Homo sapiens: one gene and its partners. The protein of the gene in region 1 interacts with the protein of each later gene in a pairwise test. Each region holds a gene or a part of one and is shown on either strand. Other genes may lie near its edges.

Region 1 (3,500 bases):
CTCTCTGTGAGGCAAATGGTATCTCAACAAATACCGACTTTTCAAGGAAGAAAGCTCTCCACTTCTCTCATAAACTTATATACTACCTTAAACAGTATGCAGTATTCGGCATATTTTTTAAAAATGAGTCCAGAGAAATAGAAGGATATAGTTACCTCATAAAGTTAACTGTTAGCAACAGACGTCTTCGTATGTGATTTATAAATTTCTTGGCAAGAACAAGATTTTTAGAAGAGGCTTACTCACACTTAAGACAGAGTGAAAATTACTCTCACAGAATGCAAAGTATAGAATAATAAACATCACCATTACCTTTAAATGCCATACAAACATCCTACATTGCAGGTTGCAGTATCAGGTTTCCAGAATTTCCAATAAGGCAATACCTACACAAATATTGCCAGGCTAAAAATGTAGCAAACTTGCATTCCCAAACTGGGAGAATCTAGCTTATTTGTAATACTTTGTGAAAAGATACTATGAAACTAAAAAGGTAACCGTGGAGTGGAAACTGCTACTAGAAAGTCTGTTATCAGTAGCTACTTCTACTTAAGTCCTCCATTCTCTCCCAGAAGAAACAAACCAAACAAAAAGCATCTATCAATATTAAAACCTGCCTCAATAAAAGCCTAGTGTTCTAACTTAGCACCTCTAGTAAATCTAATATAGCTGCTGCCCCTACGTGCCATGGTAGGCTAATTTGAGGACACCATCTTATAATAAATATACTTCTCCCCTAAATAATTGCGATTTCTCCCTGTACCTTCCTTCCAACTGGAATAAAACATTTTAAGTAGTTATTTTACTTTAGTAAATATTTTTAGAATTCCTATTTGAGAATTTGTTTTCCTTTGACAGAAAACATAATATAGGCTAGGCTAATGAATTTTTTTTTTATTCTACTGGGCTTTCTTCATCTGATTATATAATGCTATGAAAGCTTTTTTTAAAAAAGATTAGTAAATATAAATAAAAATGTTCATCAAGAGAACCTTTTGTAGGTTAGGTAAGAAAATTGTTACCACGTGACCATAAAAACACCCAATAAAGAACAATTTGAACATGGGCCTTCAGTTTTGTAGACAGGAATAATCTTGAACACATATCAACATTGCAACCACTGCAGGTCAAAACATATACATGCAGATATAGACAGGTGTTCATATACATCTAGAAGATCATCAACTCCTCCTTTCTGAAATTTTCATTGCCATAACACTGGCAACTTCTTTACCATCATCATTAGTCCTAGAATGAGTAATATCTACATAATTGGTTGGCAAATTTGATTTATAGCATACTCCTTTGTGGTCTCATTTTCTGAGAGTGAAAGGTGGTTTGGAGAATTAATTTTTTGGCAATCTATAGGCTTTCTTCATCATGAATCAAATCTCACACCTCAGTATACTGACCAGTCAAAAGTCTCTAAAGAGTTTTCTTTACAACTAGAATACTTCCTATTATAAGCCATCAAAGTTGCAAACAAAACAACATTAGTAAAAGAGCTCCCTCCTGTAATTCTAGGAAAAATGAATCACTATTTTGAGAAGGTACAAATATGAATTCAAATATTGTAAAGGAAGAGGACTTCGAAGTTATTTCACAAACTCCATAAATTCCTTTCAAAATATTCTCAACCACATTCTCCTCCTAAAACTTAACTCAGCCCTCCAGTCCTAAATTATCTACACCCAAAACACCTACCTGACACCAGTACAGCTGGCCCTCATATTAAAAATCCATGACCTAAGCTGAATTTTAATAACTTTGAAGAGGAACAGAGAGATACACAGGAGGTTATATCTAATTGTTACATAAAATGACCTCAAAGGATATACTTTAAATTCTTTTTTTTTTGAGGCAGAGTTTCGCTCTTGTCTCCCAGGATGGAGTGCAATGGCGCAATCTCAGCTCACTGCAACCTCCGCCTCCCGGGTTCAAGCGATTCTCCAGCCTTGCCTCCTGAGTAGCTGGGATTACAGGCATGCACCAACATGCCCAGCTAATTCTGGGATATACTTTAAATTCTATCCAAAGCTAACAATGGGTACATCAGACTCAACTTGGCACCATCAAAACAAAGTTAAAAGGTTAAAATGGGAAGGACGATAAAGAGAATAAAGAGGAAATGAAGCTTTCCCCTTGATATTTTAGCTCATTCTATATTGTAATCTTACTATTTGCTTCCTTTGAAAGAATACTAAGGAGTTAGTGTTGGGTGATAGCTTTGGGTGATAAACTGAACTAGAATGGTTTTCATAATCTCTAACACAGTGTGCAACACGGATACTAAAATGTGTGAAAAACTGTCTTCCACAATATGGTTTTCTCTTGGTCCACTTTACACAAAGTTAAATAGTGACCAAAAATAAAAGCATCTATAGTTTTAGAAGAAAATAGCACGTCAAATTTTTGGAGTTAAATGTGATTGTCGCCACCATGCCCGGCTAAGATGAGACTATGCATGCACCTGTGTGTGTGTGTACATACACATCCATGTACATACACACACCTTGGTTTAAAAATCACTTGAGTAGGCTGGATACAGTGGCTCACAACTGTAATCGCAGCACTCTGGGAGGCCGAGGCGGGTGGATCACCTGAGGTCAGGAGTTCAAGACCAGCCTGGCCAACATGGTGAAACCCCATCTCTACTAAAAATACAAAAATTAGCCGGGCATGGTGACAGGTGCCTGTAATCCCAGCTACTCTGGGGCTGAGACAGAAGAATTGCTTGAACCCAGGAGGCAGAGGTTGCAGTGAGCCAAGATTGTGCCACCGCACTCTAGCCTGGGCAACAAGAGCAAAACTCCATCTTAAAAAAAAAAAATTACTTGAGGAGTTGTGCTATATTTGGTAGAGATGAAGGAGAAATCAAGGGTAAAAGGCTGCAAGGGAAGACTAAGCAACAACGGACATATGGCCATATTTATTTATTTATTTTTGGCCATGTTTATCTTTGTAGTTAATCTTTAAGGCACAAAATAAATGTAAAAGCCAGATTAGGAAAGGGAGGGGGCCATTGCAGATCTTTTTTCACCTAATTAACAACTCAGGAGACCAGACAAAAGAAACAACAAATAGATCCTTTCCTGTGTTCGAATTAACCTATTTTAAACTATTTAGCCATTTTGTTTTTTATTTATTTCTTTGGGTTTTGTTTTGATTCTGTTTGACCCACTTAACTAAAATGATACTATAGATCCTTCAAAAGCAGAATCATGCCAGTTACACATCTCAAATCCTTTGATCTACTTACTTCGTACTTTAAGAGGTAAATTTGAGAATGAAAATGGGAGACTCCAATGCAATAACACCTACATAAGGAAAAACACACATAAACACCCACACATATTCCCCAGCCTCAAAACTAAAGCAAGGTACACATTTACATTTCCAAACCCCAAAGCCTAAACTGTCCAGGAAAAGATTCTAGCTTTGTGGGCTGAGTTTATTTTGCTTCTGGTTATAAACAAATGTAGTGTATACACACATCTGTC
Region 2 (5,221 bases), on another chromosome or scaffold:
CGAAGCCCTCCTTCTCCTGGCAGCAGGCCCAGCTGACCACCTCCTGCTGCAGCTCTACTCTGGACGCCTGCAGGTGAGTGACGTCCCCCTGAGATCTGGGCGGGATTCGGGGTGGGATTCCTTCTCTAGCTTTGAGTGAACCCCAGCTGGCTGTGTGACCTTGTGTAAGTCACTTTTATCTTGGGGTCTTAAGTTCTCCACTGTGGGATGGGCAGCAGCAGCCCAGAAATGGTAAATCCTTCATGAACTGGCTCTGCCCACTGGCTCCCTCCAACCATGTTTCCCGCCACAACCCCTCGCTGGCCCTTTGTGCTCTGACAGCCCTGAACTGCTTTCAGTTCCTGGCCATCTTACAGTCGCTTGCTGCCAGGCTCTTGATGCACACTCCTTCTGCCAGGTGTGCGCCTCTCCCGTTCCCTGCACATGCCTAACTCCAGCCTCTCCTTGAAGTCTCAGTGTGGGCATCCCCTCCTCCTGGGCTAGGCCCCCTCCTGAGCCCCCATGACCCCTGTGCATCCCGGTGGCACTGCACCAATTTCTCTGCAGCACCATGGTCTGTCCACGACAGTAACAGCACCAGTACTGCCTCAGCTTCCTCATTTTTCCATTTCATCCTTCAAGACACCACAAGCTTTGTTAGCAAGGAGTCTTGTGGCTTTTTTGAGTCTTCCCCTAAACCATGAAGAGTTTAAGAACCCAGGGTCTTATTCCGAATTTGTGCCAGGCTGGGTGCAGTGGCTCATGCCTATAATCCCACCACTTTGGGAGGCCAAGGTGAGAAGATCACTCGAGCCTAGGAGTTCAAGTCTGGCCTAAGCCACACAATGAGTCCCCATCTCTATTTTTAAAAGAAAAAAATAACCGGACGCGGTGGCTCATGCCTGTAATCCCAGCACTTTGGGAGGCTGAGGCGGGTGGATCACCTGAGGTCAGGAGTTCGAGACCAGCCTGGCCAACATGGTGAAACCGTGTCTCTAATAAAAATACAAAAAAATTAGCCGGGCATGGTGACACATGCCTGTAATCCCAGCTACTCAGGAGGCTGAGGCAAGAGAATCACTTGAACCCAGGAGAAGGAGGTTGCAGTGAGCCGAGACCGCACCATTGCACTTCAGCCTGGGCAACAAGAACCAAACTCCGTCTCAAAAAAAAACAAATTTGGGGCAGCCATCTCCTTCCACACCCCATGGGGAGAGGACTAGGGCTTGGTCAGTCTGCTGCTTTCACTGTTAAACACCAGCGTGGTGCAGGCTGGTGCTGATGGCTGTCCAGTTCTGTAGGTACAATGATGCCACACCCCTACAGAGATGCTCCATACCAGGACTCCAAAATTATAGTTCTTAGTGCCCTGGTTCTGCAGTTACCATACTCTGCCACCTCCCATTCTACCATCTGGGAGCACCGTACCAGAGCCATTTCTGCTGTCAATGTCATGGAGACAGAACTATGTCCTTCATCTCTCCCCAAGATCTCCTTCCACCCCAGGTCAGGGAGCTTTTTTTCAGAACACAGAGTATTTAAATTTTAATTTAAAAATTAGCCTATTCCTGAACAGTGAGCCTGGCTGCCTTCAATGACCCCAAGAAACTTTGCTCTGTTGAAGGGGACTGATCAAGGGATTCCCAGTTACCCATTATTCCAAAGTTGAAATCCAGATTCCAAGACAATATTTCTGGCACCTCTCACTCAAGGAAAGAGGGGAAGAATTTAAAAACACAGGTTGGATTTCTAGGAGAGCATCTTGCTGTATGTCAGTTCCTTGTGGGCGAGGACCACATCTGATTCATATCAGGGTCCCCAGAGCCCATCCAGCCCTGGCCCAGAGTTTCCTTTGGTGAGTGTTTGGAGGATGAATAAAGAGATGGCAGGACGGCAAGAGGAGTGGCACCAGAGGCTCTTGTCCTAGGTTTTCCACTCTGGGGCCCCAAGTGTGGGGAACTCACTATGCTTTTTTTTTGTTTGTTTTTTGAGACAGAGTTTCGCTCTTGCTGCCCAGGCTGGAGTGCAATGGCATGATCTCAGCTCACTGCAACCTCCACCTCCCGAGTTCAAGCAATTCTCCTGCCACAGCCTCCAAAGTAGCTGGGATTACAGGCATGCGCCACCATGCCCAGCTAATTTTGTGTTTTTAGTAGAGACAGGGTTTCTCCATGTTGGCCAGGCTGGTCTCAAACTCCTAACCTCAGGTGATCCGCCTGCCTTGGCCTCCCAAAGTGCTAGGATTACAGGCATGAGCCACCACTGCAATCACGCCCGGCTCTATGCTTTTATAAGGGAAATGATGGATCCAAAGTGCTGTCCACTATCTCCCACTCCCCATCTCTCTTCAGGTCAGACTTGTTCTGGGCCAGGAGGAGCTGAGGCTGCAGACTCCAGCAGAGACGCTGCTGAGTGACTCCATCCCCCACACTGTGGTGCTGACTGTCGTAGAGGGCTGGGCCACGTTGTCAGTCGATGGGTTTCTGAACGCCTCCTCAGCAGTCCCAGGAGCCCCCCTAGAGGTCCCCTATGGGCTCTTTGTTGGGGGCACTGGGACCCTTGGCCTGCCCTACCTGAGGGGAACCAGCCGACCCCTGAGGGGTTGCCTCCATGCAGCCACCCTCAATGGCCGCAGCCTCCTCCGGCCTCTGACCCCCGATGTGCATGAGGGCTGTGCTGAAGAGTTTTCTGCCAGTGATGATGTGGCCCTGGGCTTCTCTGGGCCCCACTCTCTGGCTGCCTTCCCTGCCTGGGGCACTCAGGACGAAGGAACCCTAGAGTTTACACTCACCACACAGAGCCGGCAGGCACCCTTGGCCTTCCAGGCAGGGGGCCGGCGTGGGGACTTCATCTATGTGGACATATTTGAGGGCCACCTGCGGGCCGTGGTGGAGAAGGGCCAGGGTACCGTATTGCTCCACAACAGTGTGCCTGTGGCCGATGGGCAGCCCCATGAGGTCAGTGTCCACATCAATGCTCACCGGCTGGAAATCTCCGTGGACCAGTACCCTACGCATACTTCGAACCGAGGAGTCCTCAGCTACCTGGAGCCACGGGGCAGTCTCCTTCTCGGGGGGCTGGATGCAGAGGCCTCTCGTCACCTCCAGGAACACCGCCTGGGCCTGACACCAGAGGCCACCAATGCCTCCCTGCTGGGCTGCATGGAAGACCTCAGTGTCAATGGCCAGAGGCGGGGGCTGCGGGAAGCTTTGCTGACGCGCAACATGGCAGCCGGCTGCAGGCTGGAGGAGGAGGAGTATGAGGACGATGCCTATGGACATTATGAAGCTTTCTCCACCCTGGCCCCTGAGGCTTGGCCAGCCATGGAGCTGCCTGAGCCATGCGTGCCTGAGCCAGGGCTGCCTCCTGTCTTTGCCAATTTCACCCAGCTGCTGACTATCAGCCCACTGGTGGTGGCCGAGGGGGGCACAGCCTGGCTTGAGTGGAGGCATGTGCAGCCCACGCTGGACCTGATGGAGGCTGAGCTGCGCAAATCCCAGGTGCTGTTCAGCGTGACCCGAGGGGCACGCCATGGCGAGCTCGAGCTGGACATCCCGGGAGCCCAGGCACGAAAAATGTTCACCCTCCTGGACGTGGTGAACCGCAAGGCCCGCTTCATCCACGATGGCTCTGAGGACACCTCCGACCAGCTGGTGCTGGAGGTGTCGGTGACGGCTCGGGTGCCCATGCCCTCATGCCTTCGGAGGGGCCAAACATACCTCCTGCCCATCCAGGTCAACCCTGTCAATGACCCACCCCACATCATCTTCCCACATGGCAGCCTCATGGTGATCCTGGAACACACGCAGAAGCCGCTGGGGCCTGAGGTTTTCCAGGCCTATGACCCGGACTCTGCCTGTGAGGGCCTCACCTTCCAGGTCCTTGGCACCTCCTCTGGCCTCCCCGTGGAGCGCCGAGACCAGCCTGGGGAGCCGGCGACCGAGTTCTCCTGCCGGGAGTTGGAGGCCGGCAGCCTAGTCTATGTCCACCGCGGTGGTCCTGCACAGGACTTGACGTTCCGGGTCAGCGATGGACTGCAGGCCAGCCCCCCGGCCACGCTGAAGGTGGTGGCCATCCGGCCGGCCATACAGATCCACCGCAGCACAGGGTTGCGACTGGCCCAAGGCTCTGCCATGCCCATCTTGCCCGCCAACCTGTCGGTGGAGACCAATGCCGTGGGGCAGGATGTGAGCGTGCTGTTCCGCGTCACTGGGGCCCTGCAGTTTGGGGAGCTGCAGAAGCAGGGGGCAGGTGGGGTGGAGGGTGCTGAGTGGTGGGCCACACAGGCGTTCCACCAGCGGGATGTGGAGCAGGGCCGCGTGAGGTACCTGAGCACTGACCCACAGCACCACGCTTACGACACCGTGGAGAACCTGGCCCTGGAGGTGCAGGTGGGCCAGGAGATCCTGAGCAATCTGTCCTTCCCAGTGACCATCCAGAGAGCCACTGTGTGGATGCTGCGGCTGGAGCCACTGCACACTCAGAACACCCAGCAGGAGACCCTCACCACAGCCCACCTGGAGGCCACCCTGGAGGAGGCAGGCCCAAGCCCCCCAACCTTCCATTATGAGGTGGTTCAGGCTCCCAGGAAAGGCAACCTTCAACTACAGGGCACAAGGCTGTCAGATGGCCAGGGCTTCACCCAGGATGACATACAGGCTGGCCGGGTGACCTATGGGGCCACAGCACGTGCCTCAGAGGCAGTCGAGGACACCTTCCGTTTCCGTGTCACAGCTCCACCATATTTCTCCCCACTCTATACCTTCCCCATCCACATTGGTGGTGACCCAGATGCGCCTGTCCTCACCAATGTCCTCCTCGTGGTGCCTGAGGGTGGTGAGGGTGTCCTCTCTGCTGACCACCTCTTTGTCAAGAGTCTCAACAGTGCCAGCTACCTCTATGAGGTCATGGAGCGGCCCCGCCATGGGAGGTTGGCTTGGCGTGGGACACAGGACAAGACCACTATGGTGACATCCTTCACCAATGAAGACCTGTTGCGTGGCCGGCTGGTCTACCAGCATGATGACTCCGAGACCACAGAAGATGATATCCCATTTGTTGCTACCCGCCAGGGCGAGAGCAGTGGTGACATGGCCTGGGAGGAGGTACGGGGTGTCTTCCGAGTGGCCATCCAGCCCGTGAATGACCACGCCCCTGTGCAGACCATCAGCCGGATCTTCCATGTGGCCCGGGGTGGGCGGCGGCTGCTGACTACAGACGACGTGGCCTTCAGCGATGCTGA
Region 3 (5,221 bases), on another chromosome or scaffold:
TGTTTCAAAAGACATAGATAGGTCAGAAGGGGATGGATTCTCACACTCCATCCAAGTGGAGCAGAGCCTGTCATCACTTCAGGAAGCTAAATACACATGTGTTTAAAGGAAGTAACCCGGCAATCTGGGAGTAGGTCCACAATGGCGGCCCACCACAGAAGCTGAGAATGAGGAGAGAGCTTGAGCCCTGCATTGTTTTGTGGAAGATGAGGAACTCACGTTTAGCCATGCCCTTCCTTTCCCAGGATGTTCTGAGGGATCAGGTCCAGAAACTGGAAGAGCGTCTAACTGATACTGAGGCTGAGAAGAGCCAGGTCCACACAGAGTTGCAGGATCTGCAGAGACAGCTCTCCCAGAATCAGGAAGGTGAGAAGCTCAAGACAGGCAGGGAGATTGAGAGGGAGAAGGGATAGGTGGGGAGCCCAGAAGTGGCAGGCACAGGCCTAGCAGCCACTCTGTTTATTTTATTTTATTTTTGAGACGACATCTCACTCTGTCACTCAGGTTTGAGTACAATGTCACGACTTCGGCTCGCTGCAACCTATGTCTTCCGAGCAGCTAGGATTATAGGCATGCGCCACCACGCCTGGCTAATTTTTTTGGATTTTTAATAAAGACGGGGTTTCACCATGTTCACCAACCAGCGGAGCCACCGGGGTCTCTAGGAGCTCCTGCACAATTATAGGATTGGGGGCTAGAAGGGACCTCCAGTGTCATCTGGCTCAACCCTGTCTGGAATTGAGGGCCAAGGCTCTCTGTGATGAGGATGAGGACATATTGGGATGATTACCAGGCAGCGCTGGGGCTGGCAGCAGCAGGGAGTGCTTGAACTCCTGGCCTCAAGTGATCCGCCTGCCTCGACCTCCCAAAGTGCTAGGATTACAGGCGTGAGCCACTGCGCCCAGCTGCACTGCATTATTTACCCAGAAATGTGAGGTGAGATCTAGATGCACTTCCAAAGGGGTGCTGACCACCTTGAACTATTTTTTCAGCTTTGCTTGGCCTTTGAGGCCCATCCTGGAAGAAGAGATTAGGAGGAACAGATTTGATGAACTGAAAGAAGGAAATGGCTGGGCTTCCATTTTCTGTCTCTGTAGATTTAAAAATTAAAAAAATTGGAGACCCAGGGCCAGGACTGTAAGAACATTATAAAACTGCATCTTTTGTCATCCATGTTACTTATTTTTATCATCTTCAACTGTGTCCTCCAAGTTAGCCTTTGGTAGCTGAGGGATTATGAGCTTATTTGGGAGAAAGCAAAGAGAGGGGATCTGGGGAGGATATATCCATGTGCCAGCCAAGGACTAGAAAGTGTCATGACTCCTTACAAAGGACAGGAGAGGAAGGGTCTTGAAGCTCAAGTTTCTACTGTAAAAGAGAAGAGTTAGCCGGGTGTGGTGGTGGGCACCTGTAATCCCAACTACTCGGGAGGCTGAGGCAGGGGAATCGCTTGAACCCGGGAGGTGGAGGTTGCAGTGAGCCGAGATTGTGCCACTGCATTCCAGCCTGGGTGACAGAGCAAGACTCCATCTCAAAAAAAGAAAAAAAGAGAAGAGGACACCTTGGGTCTGGGCCTTTTTTGAGGCCGTTTGAGGGTTCCCTGAGAGCCACAAAAATAATGGGATTCCAACGCCTGTTGCAGAAATGGTGGGCAACCAGCAGAGCCACCCGGGTCTCTAGGAGCTCCTGCACAATTATAGGACTGGGGGCTAGAAGGAACCTCCAGTGTCATCTGGCTCAACCCTGTCTGGAATTGAGGGCCAAGGCTCTCTGTGATGAGGATGAGGACATATTGGGATGATTACCAGGCAGTGCTGGGGCTGGCAGCAGCAGGGAGTGCTGCCAGGCAAATAGAAGCAGCTGGCATCTGCCAGCTCTTGATGTCCTTGATATCTCTAGGACACTGGATATAATTTTCTCCTTCTTGGCCTTCCTTCCCTTTGAATCTGTTCCCCATCCTCCATCTGCCTCTATATCCCTCTATATCCCAAACATGGGTCTTACTCCACTACCTCTCCTCTCCTCTCCTCTCTTCTCAAAGAGAAATCTAAGTGGGAAGGAAAGCAGAACTCCCTAGAATCTGAGCTGATGGAACTACATGAAACTATGGCATCCTTACAGAGTCGCCTGCGGAGAGCAGAGCTACAGCGAATGGAAGCCCAGGTAAAGTGGTACTGGTTTCAGGGAGGGGTTTGCCTCAGGAGTAGTCCCTTGGGCCCACCTTGGCCTGTGGTCCTGTGTCCCACTTCCTTCAGCAAGTCTGTCAGTTCCTCTGGCTGTCTCCATGTCCCTGGGGGCCATTATTCAGGTTCCAATGAATCCTCCTTCAATTGCTTTTTCTGAATTGAGGTTGATATTTTTGCCCCTTGTCCTGAAGGACCAGCGTCTCCCCTGGGCATAGCAGAGTCCTGGAAGGTGGTAGGGATGCCCTTTTACAGTATCAGCTTAAGTGGAATATACCACCACTTTTTTTTGCCCAAGTCCTTATCACTGCTAGTGCCACAAAATAAGAAAGAGAAGGGTCGGTGTTGGGGTGACAGTAGCAGGGAAGTGTAGTCTAAAGTGGCTTTTCATCTTGTCTTCTAGGGTGAGCGAGAGTTACTTCAGGCAGCCAAGGAGAACCTGACAGCCCAGGTGGAACACCTGCAAGCAGCTGTCGTAGAAGCCAGGGCTCAGGCAAGTGCTGCTGGCATCCTGGAAGAAGACCTGAGAACGGCTCGCTCAGCACTGAAGCTGAAAAATGAGGAAGTAGAGAGTGAGCGTGAGAGAGCCCAGGCTCTGCAAGAGCAGGGCGAACTGAAGGTGGCCCAAGGGAAGGCTCTGCAAGAGAATTTGGCCCTCCTGACCCAGACCCTAGCTGAAAGAGAAGAGGAGGTGGAGACTCTGCGGGGACAAATCCAGGAACTGGAGAAGCAACGGGAAATGCAGAAGGCTGCTTTGGAATTGCTGTCTCTGGACCTGAAGAAGAGGAACCAAGAGGTAGATCTGCAGCAAGAACAGATTCAGGAGCTAGAGAAGTGTAGGTCTGTTTTAGAGCATCTGCCCATGGCCGTCCAGGAGCGAGAGCAGAAGCTGACTGTGCAGAGGGAGCAGATCAGAGAGCTCGAGAAGGATCGGGAGACTCAGAGGAACGTCTTGGAGCATCAGCTTCTAGAACTTGAGAAGAAAGACCAAATGATTGAGTCCCAGAGAGGACAGGTTCAGGACCTGAAAAAGCAGTTGGTTACTCTGGAATGCCTGGCCCTGGAACTGGAGGAAAACCATCACAAGATGGAGTGCCAGCAAAAACTGATCAAGGAGCTGGAGGGCCAGAGGGAAACCCAGAGAGTGGCTTTGACCCACCTTACGCTGGACCTAGAAGAAAGGAGCCAGGAGCTGCAGGCACAAAGCAGCCAGATCCATGACCTGGAGAGCCACAGCACCGTTCTGGCAAGAGAGCTGCAGGAGAGGGACCAGGAGGTGAAGTCTCAGCGAGAACAGATCGAGGAGCTGCAGAGGCAGAAAGAGCATCTGACTCAGGATCTCGAGAGGAGAGACCAGGAGCTGATGCTGCAGAAGGAGAGGATTCAGGTTCTCGAGGATCAGAGGACCCGGCAGACCAAGATCCTGGAGGAGGACCTGGAACAGATCAAGCTGTCCTTGAGAGAGCGAGGCCGGGAGCTGACCACTCAGAGGCAGCTGATGCAGGAACGGGCAGAGGAAGGGAAGGGCCCAAGTAAAGCACAGCGCGGGAGCCTAGAGCACATGAAGCTGATCCTGCGTGATAAGGAGAAGGAGGTGGAATGTCAGCAGGAGCATATCCATGAACTCCAGGAGCTCAAAGACCAGCTGGAGCAGCAGCTCCAGGGCCTGCACAGGAAGGTAGGTGAGACCAGCCTCCTCCTGTCCCAGCGAGAGCAGGAAATAGTGGTCCTGCAGCAGCAACTGCAGGAAGCCAGGGAACAAGGGGAGCTGAAGGAGCAGTCACTTCAGAGTCAACTGGATGAGGCCCAGAGAGCCCTAGCCCAGAGGGACCAGGAACTGGAGGCTCTGCAGCAAGAACAGCAGCAGGCCCAGGGACAGGAGGAGAGGGTGAAGGAAAAGGCAGACGCCCTCCAGGGAGCTCTGGAGCAAGCCCATATGACACTGAAGGAGCGTCATGGAGAGCTTCAGGACCACAAGGAACAGGCACGAAGGCTGGAGGAAGAGCTGGCAGTGGAGGGACGGCGGGTCCAGGCCCTGGAGGAGGTGCTGGGAGACCTAAGGGCTGAGTCTCGGGAACAGGAGAAAGCTCTGTTGGCCCTCCAGCAGCAGTGTGCTGAGCAGGCACAGGAGCATGAGGTGGAGACCAGGGCCCTGCAGGACAGCTGGCTGCAGGCCCAGGCAGTGCTCAAGGAACGGGACCAGGAGCTGGAAGCTCTGCGGGCAGAAAGTCAGTCCTCCCGGCATCAGGAGGAGGCTGCCCGGGCCCGGGCTGAGGCTCTGCAGGAGGCCCTTGGCAAGGCTCATGCTGCCCTGCAGGGGAAAGAGCAGCATCTCCTCGAGCAGGCAGAATTGAGCCGCAGTCTGGAGGCCAGCACTGCAACCCTGCAAGCCTCCCTGGATGCCTGCCAGGCACACAGTCGGCAGCTGGAGGAGGCTCTGAGGATACAAGAAGGTGAGATCCAGGACCAGGATCTCCGATACCAGGAGGATGTGCAGCAGCTGCAGCAGGCACTTGCCCAGAGGGATGAAGAGCTGAGACATCAGCAGGAACGGGAGCAGCTGCTGGAGAAGTCTCTGGCCCAGAGGGTCCAAGAGAATATGATCCAAGAGAAGCAGAATCTGGGGCAAGAGAGAGAAGAGGAGGAGATAAGGGGCCTTCATCAGAGTGTAAGGGAGCTACAGCTGACTCTAGCCCAAAAGGAACAGGAGATTCTGGAGCTGAGGGAGACCCAGCAAAGGAACAACCTGGAAGCCTTACCCCACAGCCACAAAACCTCCCCAATGGAGGAACAATCTCTAAAACTTGATTCTTTAGAGCCCAGGCTGCAGCGGGAGCTGGAGCGGCTACAGGCAGCCCTGAGACAGACAGAAGCCAGGGAGATTGAGTGGAGGGAGAAGGCCCAGGACTTGGCACTCTCCCTAGCGCAGACCAAGGCCAGTGTCAGCAGTCTGCAGGAGGTAGCCATGTTCCTACAAGCCTCTGTCCTGGAGCGGGACTCAGAACAGCAAAGGCTGCAGGTAAGTCACTCCATGGGGA
Region 4 (5,221 bases), on another chromosome or scaffold:
CCACCTGGGATCTGCCCACATGGCTGCAGGCCCAGCACAGTCCCATGCTGCCCCCGGAGGCATCTCTGCCCAGCCTCTCCCTCTCTCCTGCTTTAGGAGCTGCGGCCTCCCTCTGGGCAGGGTGTGCATCCCCAGCAAGCTTGGCCTCCTGCCAGGATTGGGGGGGTAGTCTCAGGGCCCCAAGGGAGGCTCATATCTGCCCCTGTGGAGGAGCCGAGCAGGGACCCCCCGAAGGGCTCCATCACTTGGCACAGAGCATACAGGTGGCACACCCAGAAGGAAGGACATTTGGAGGTGCTGGCAGTGAGCTGCATGCCGCACGATCTAGAAGAATACCTATGAACCTTGGACATCTGGGGCCGGCTCATGCCACCCCTACTGAGCCTCCCCCACTGACCACACCAGAGCCACAGCCAGTGGGGCTACCCTCATCTCCCATGTAGGTTCCCAGCTCCCATCCCGCCCCAGTTTGATACTAGGAATCTCTTGCTAAAAGGCAAACCTGAGCCATGTCTCCACTTCTCAACACCCTTCACTGGCTCCCTAGTGCCTTCAAGCCCTGCCCACCTGGGCGTCCTCCTCTCACCCCCTGCTTGTCTAAATGTCCTGCTGGCATCCCGCTCAGTGGAGGGGAGCACGGCTCAGCAGGTGGCTGGGTCCTGTTGCTTACAGCTGTGCCCCTGGGAAAGCCGCCTCCCTTCTCTGACCCTATTTCCCTGTCTCTAAGGGGATGTGAGTGGTGCACAGATGAGCTGAGGCCCATGAGCACACATGGTGTGCCGTGGGGCTCAGTGCAACCATCCCAGGGGCTCAGGTGACACCCCCCCAGGTCCCCACCCCGCTGGAGGTGTCCTGCTGGGTGCTCAGAGACATGTGCTTCCTTCTCCCTCCAGATGATGCAATTACGTGTCCAGAGGTCTTCGCTCTTGAGGGAGGTGGGCAGGGGCCAGACCCATCCTGTGTCCAGCTTGGCCAGCTGATGGAGGATGGGTGCAAGGGAGGCTCTGAGCCTCACTCAGGCGAGGTGAGGCCAGGGATTGGCTATAGCTGAAGGTAGGGTTCAAGTTCAGAGCAGGGCCCTGAGAAGGGGTACAGGGAAGACCTGGGCAGTGAGGGGTGCTGTAAAGGAGGTTCCTCATGGCTGAGGCTGGGGGCTGTGGCTGTGCAGGGGACCTGAGGCTGGAGCTGTACTCACAGACTACGCTGGGCAAACATCTTGCAGGGTGTCCAGGGCCGCCAGTGCCACTGGATGCTGAGAGGCAGGGGCACCCCGTAGGCCGTGCAGGTGAGGGCCTGGCGGCTGTGACGCGAGTAGATGCTGGGGGAGGAGGCCTCCTTCTCATGTATCTGGGGGGGCACTGTGGGCACACAGATGGCCGGTCAGCTGGCCTCCAATGCCAGGCCGCCCACCCGTGCGCTCTCCCGTCCCTGACCTACCATTCACCACCAGCTCCAGGCTGATGTTGCGCCTCAGGCCAGCAGCGGAGTTCCACAGGGCGAGGGTGTAGGTGCCTGTGCTGGCCTCTGTCACCTCCTTGAGCACCAGGGCATGTGGACTGTGGCGCCCGGACAGTGCCTTTCCATCCTTGTACCTGGCCAGGGAAGGGAGGTCAGGGCCCATACAGATCCCACCACAGCCCCAACCTCATGCTGGCACCCCCACCCCAAATACAGTTGGGAGGAGGGAGGGGCTGGCAGGAGTGCAGGGTAGGACGGGGAACACTGGTCTGCGAGGGGATGGTCTAAGTCCCTGGAGATGGTCTCCAGGCCGTATCTGCCAGGTGTGACAACCGTGTCAGGCGGCCGGCTCGGGCATTGGTCACTGAGGTCTGCAGTAGCACCTCCTGCCTTGCCCCAAAGCCTCTGAACTCTCCACAAGTAGTGAGATGACCATGTCACTGCTGGGGCAGCCGCCTTCTCTCCCTGCCTGTGGCTGCAGACAGCCTTCTTCAGCCAGGCTTGCCCAGCCCAGCCCAGGAGGGTCCCACACACCTGGTTCCTCCACCCAGCTGGGCACGGCCTGGAGACCCCGTCCTCTTTCTTAGACACCTGAAGGAGTGGAGGTGCAGTCCCTGCGAGCACAGTCTAGCTCCTTGACATGTGCGTGGCCCCTGCAGACATGTGGGCTTCTTGCTGCCCACACCCCGCCCCCAGGCCTGGCTCTCACTGCCTGCCTCGCTGGGACACTCATTTCTGTAGCCAGGAATCTGCAGGGTTCCCTGCCTCCTTCATTTGGGTGGGGGCGTGCAGCCTTCCTGACTGTCCTATGCTGTGGCCTGCCCCTGCCTTGCTGTGTCTGTTTGCCCATCGTCCCCCTGGGCTGGGAGCCCCACGAGGGCAGTGCTGCCTCCTGCAGAGTTGCGCCCAGATGCCTACATGTCTGCTGCACACGTGAGGAAGCAGATGCCTCAGCCCCAGAGGGTGTGCTGGGGCCCCTGCAGGCACCTGTCTCTGTGGCCTGGACTCTGTATGGAGATGCTCCTCCTTTGGACAGGTGCCTGCCCCTGGTGCTGGGTGTGGCAGGCCAGAGATACACCACTGTGTCCTGGGAGAGGCACAGCCCTCGGGCAGAGACCAACAGAGAAGGGGAGGCAGGGGCCCATTCTCAACTTGGACATCACAGCAGGGGCCCGGGGGGAGTGCCTGGCCTGGGGTCGCAGAGTGAGGCAGGGCAGGGCAGGGGCGGAACTGAGGTGGTGCTGTCTGCATGGCTCTGGTCCTGAGTCTGCCACTTGCTGGATCTGAGACTCCTTCATTGCCTCAATGGAGATGACATGCACCTTGCAGCTGTCGTGAGGTTTAACCCGGACAGTGACAGCAGCGTGCTGGACACACTGCGGGTGCTTCGGAAGCCAAGGACCAGCCCATCTGTGTGTTTGCTAGACCGTCCACCCAGTCAGTGCTCGCCATCGTCATGTGCTGGTGCCATAGGAAGGGTGGGCACCACAGGAAGGGTGGGTGGCTGCCATAGGAAGAGAGCCAGATGTGGCAGGAGTGAGCCAGTGGAAAGCTGTTCTGAGAGGCAGCTGCCTGAGGACTGGGTAGACCCTGGACGCAACAGAGCTGCCACCTGCCCAGAGCAGGCTCAGTAATGGTGGCCTTGGAGGGCAGGGGACAGGGCCCAGGGGTCTCCAGGAGCTGTACCCGTGAGTGAGGCTCCAGGATCTGCCAGTGCCCTCAGGACTCTGCCCCAAGGGCCTTGGCACTGACCAGGTGCCTTGGATGGACACCGAAGTCTGTGTCCTCAGTGGGAGGGTCACACTGGGCTCAGGGCCAGGACACCCTGGGCCTTCCATCCCAGGAGAGACGAGCCCCCAGCCAGTGCAAGGGGCCCTGGCTGAGGAAACCCTGGGCCTCTGCTTGCCCAGCTCCAGGAAAAGTTGCCCTGCCAGGAGGGAGGTGCCCAGGCTGAAGAGAAGGAGGCTCTTGGGCTAGCTCAGTGCAGAGACCCCTCCTGGGGAATTGGCGATCAGTTAGGAATACCCTTTCCTAGCCTCTGCTTCCTCGTCTATGCAATGGGGACTCAAAGTGTGACTGACTGTGGGTGAGCCATGTGGATGACTCAGACGGCCTGAGGACGTGTTTGTGAGGGGTGCCATGCCCCCCCAGAGCCTGCAGGGAGTAGCCAGCGGAGACAGGGCCACCCCTGAGGCCTCCCTTCTCTGGGCCGCAGCACACGCTTGCAGATCGGGGATCTGCGGGGACTCCAGCAGCTTGTCGGCCTCCTGGAAGCTCTCTCGCTCGCTGCCGTGCAGCACAGGCCCAGCCCAGGCAATCTGTCAATTCCCTGTGGCATCTCCAAATTTCTGGACAGAAGGGTCCTGGGAGAGGCAGCCTCGCAAAAGGAGGCATAGGGAACGCTAAGCCATTGCTGCAGGGCAGGCCCTGGAGATTCTGCAGGGCAGAGAGGGGCCCAGCGGTCAGGAGGCAGTTAGGAAAAGCCCCTCGCTGTGCCCACCACACCCACATGTAACAGAAGGCTGGTACTGAAACCTTTCACAGTGTGGCAGGAACAGACAGACCTTCCATCTGAAATATCACATTATGGGCGGGTTCCTTGGGGGGTCTCCTGAGAGAGGCCCCCGCCATGCCTGGTCTCCGTGTGCAGGTCCTGACGGGGAGGACGCTGCCCGTCTTCCCCTATGGTCTGTTTTGCCCCTGGACTTGGAAGGGTATCGGCGGGGTCGGTGGGGAGCCAGGGCTGTTACCACTGGAACTCGGGCGGGGGGTACGCTGCCAGCTTCACGGGCAGCTTCACCAGCTCGTCTCCTGCCGTGGCCTCCAGGATGGGTCCTTTGAGCCACTCGACGCTGATGAAGGGATTTTCTGCCGGACAGGAGAAGTCACTGTAAATCCAGGACTGACCCGTCGTGGACTGACCAGGGACTCCCCCCACGGCCCCTGCAGCCCCGGCAGCCGGACATCCGCAGACTGGGGCTGGCCATGCCGCCCGGTGCAGGAGCTGGGCAGCTCCTCTGCTCGTGGCCCTCCCTTCCCTCTGGCTGGACTCCTGAGTGCTCAAGGGCACCGTGAGCTCTGGGCCCAGGCCCACAGGGCACAAGGACCCTGGTTTCCCAGGCCATACCATGCACAATGACCTCGGTGCTCTCCCGAAATCGCTGGATGCCGTTGTTGGCCTTGCACACATACGAGCCCAGGTCGTGCTGGCTGACGTTGTGGATGGTCAGGATGCTGGAGAGTTCTGTGTGGGTCTGCTGGGAGCGTCGCTCGGGCACCCACTTACCCCGCTCTGCCTGCCCGCACCCAGGGAAGCCCCGCGTCAGCAGGCGGGCTCCTGCACAGCTACCCCACCGAAGGCACACCTCCCAGCCCAGCCAGCGGTGGCTCCGGAAGCCCTGGACCCAGGCCCTGAGTTTTCTTTGGGTGGAACACTTGCCACTCAGACCGGGGCCCCTGGGGCAGGCCTGGGCCCACACATCCTCCACGCGGAGGCCCAGTGTGTGCTGTACAGTCACAGGGACTCCTGGGGACAGGACAGCCTGGCAGCGCTGCTGACCTCACCTGCTTCCCTGGGTAGTCCCAGTCAAAGGTGACACCTGAGTTAAACTCAGCCCACACGGTGCAGTTCAGGACCAGCTTCTCCCCTACCAGCAGCTCCAGCGACTTCCTGGGCAACAGCTGGATGTCATAGAGCTCGTTGCCTGTTGACACGCACACAGTGACTCCCACGCCCTCACAGGACGACACCCACTGAGGCCAG

The links. Proteins that work in one complex are often made in the same cells at the same time.
Region 2: the proteins of ATF7IP (region 1) and CSPG4 interact in a two-hybrid assay, tested with the Homo sapiens proteins (one large-scale study listed by IntAct).
Region 3: the proteins of ATF7IP (region 1) and CEP250 interact in a two-hybrid assay, tested with the Homo sapiens proteins (one large-scale study listed by IntAct).
Region 4: the proteins of ATF7IP (region 1) and FLT4 interact in a two-hybrid assay, tested with the Homo sapiens proteins (one large-scale study listed by IntAct).

What each region holds. Positions count from the first base shown.
Region 1 is NC_000012.12:14,498,182-14,501,681, reverse strand, and holds part of ATF7IP (activating transcription factor 7-interacting protein 1), read right to left. Parts: 3' UTR 1-3,500. UniProt on the Homo sapiens protein: Recruiter that couples transcriptional factors to general transcription apparatus and thereby modulates transcription regulation and chromatin formation. Can both act as an activator or a repressor depending on the context.
Region 2 is NC_000015.10:75,687,922-75,693,142, reverse strand, and holds part of CSPG4 (chondroitin sulfate proteoglycan 4 precursor), read left to right. Parts: coding exon 1-73; intron 74-2,330; coding exon 2,331-5,221. UniProt on the Homo sapiens protein: Proteoglycan playing a role in cell proliferation and migration which stimulates endothelial cells motility during microvascular morphogenesis. May also inhibit neurite outgrowth and growth cone collapse during axon regeneration.
Region 3 is NC_000020.11:35,499,804-35,505,024, forward strand, and holds part of CEP250 (centrosome-associated protein CEP250), read left to right. Parts: intron 1-245; coding exon 246-366; intron 367-2,041; coding exon 2,042-2,163; intron 2,164-2,586; coding exon 2,587-5,202; intron 5,203-5,221. UniProt on the Homo sapiens protein: Plays an important role in centrosome cohesion during interphase. Recruits CCDC102B to the proximal ends of centrioles. Maintains centrosome cohesion by forming intercentriolar linkages.
Region 4 is NC_000005.10:180,624,674-180,629,894, forward strand, and holds part of FLT4 (vascular endothelial growth factor receptor 3 isoform 1 precursor), read right to left. Parts: intron 5,163-5,221; coding exon 5,023-5,162; intron 4,755-5,022; coding exon 4,586-4,754; intron 4,327-4,585; coding exon 4,209-4,326; intron 1,593-4,208; coding exon 1,438-1,592; intron 1,359-1,437; coding exon 1,196-1,358; intron 1-1,195. UniProt on the Homo sapiens protein: Tyrosine-protein kinase that acts as a cell-surface receptor for VEGFC and VEGFD, and plays an essential role in adult lymphangiogenesis and in the development of the vascular network and the cardiovascular system during embryonic development.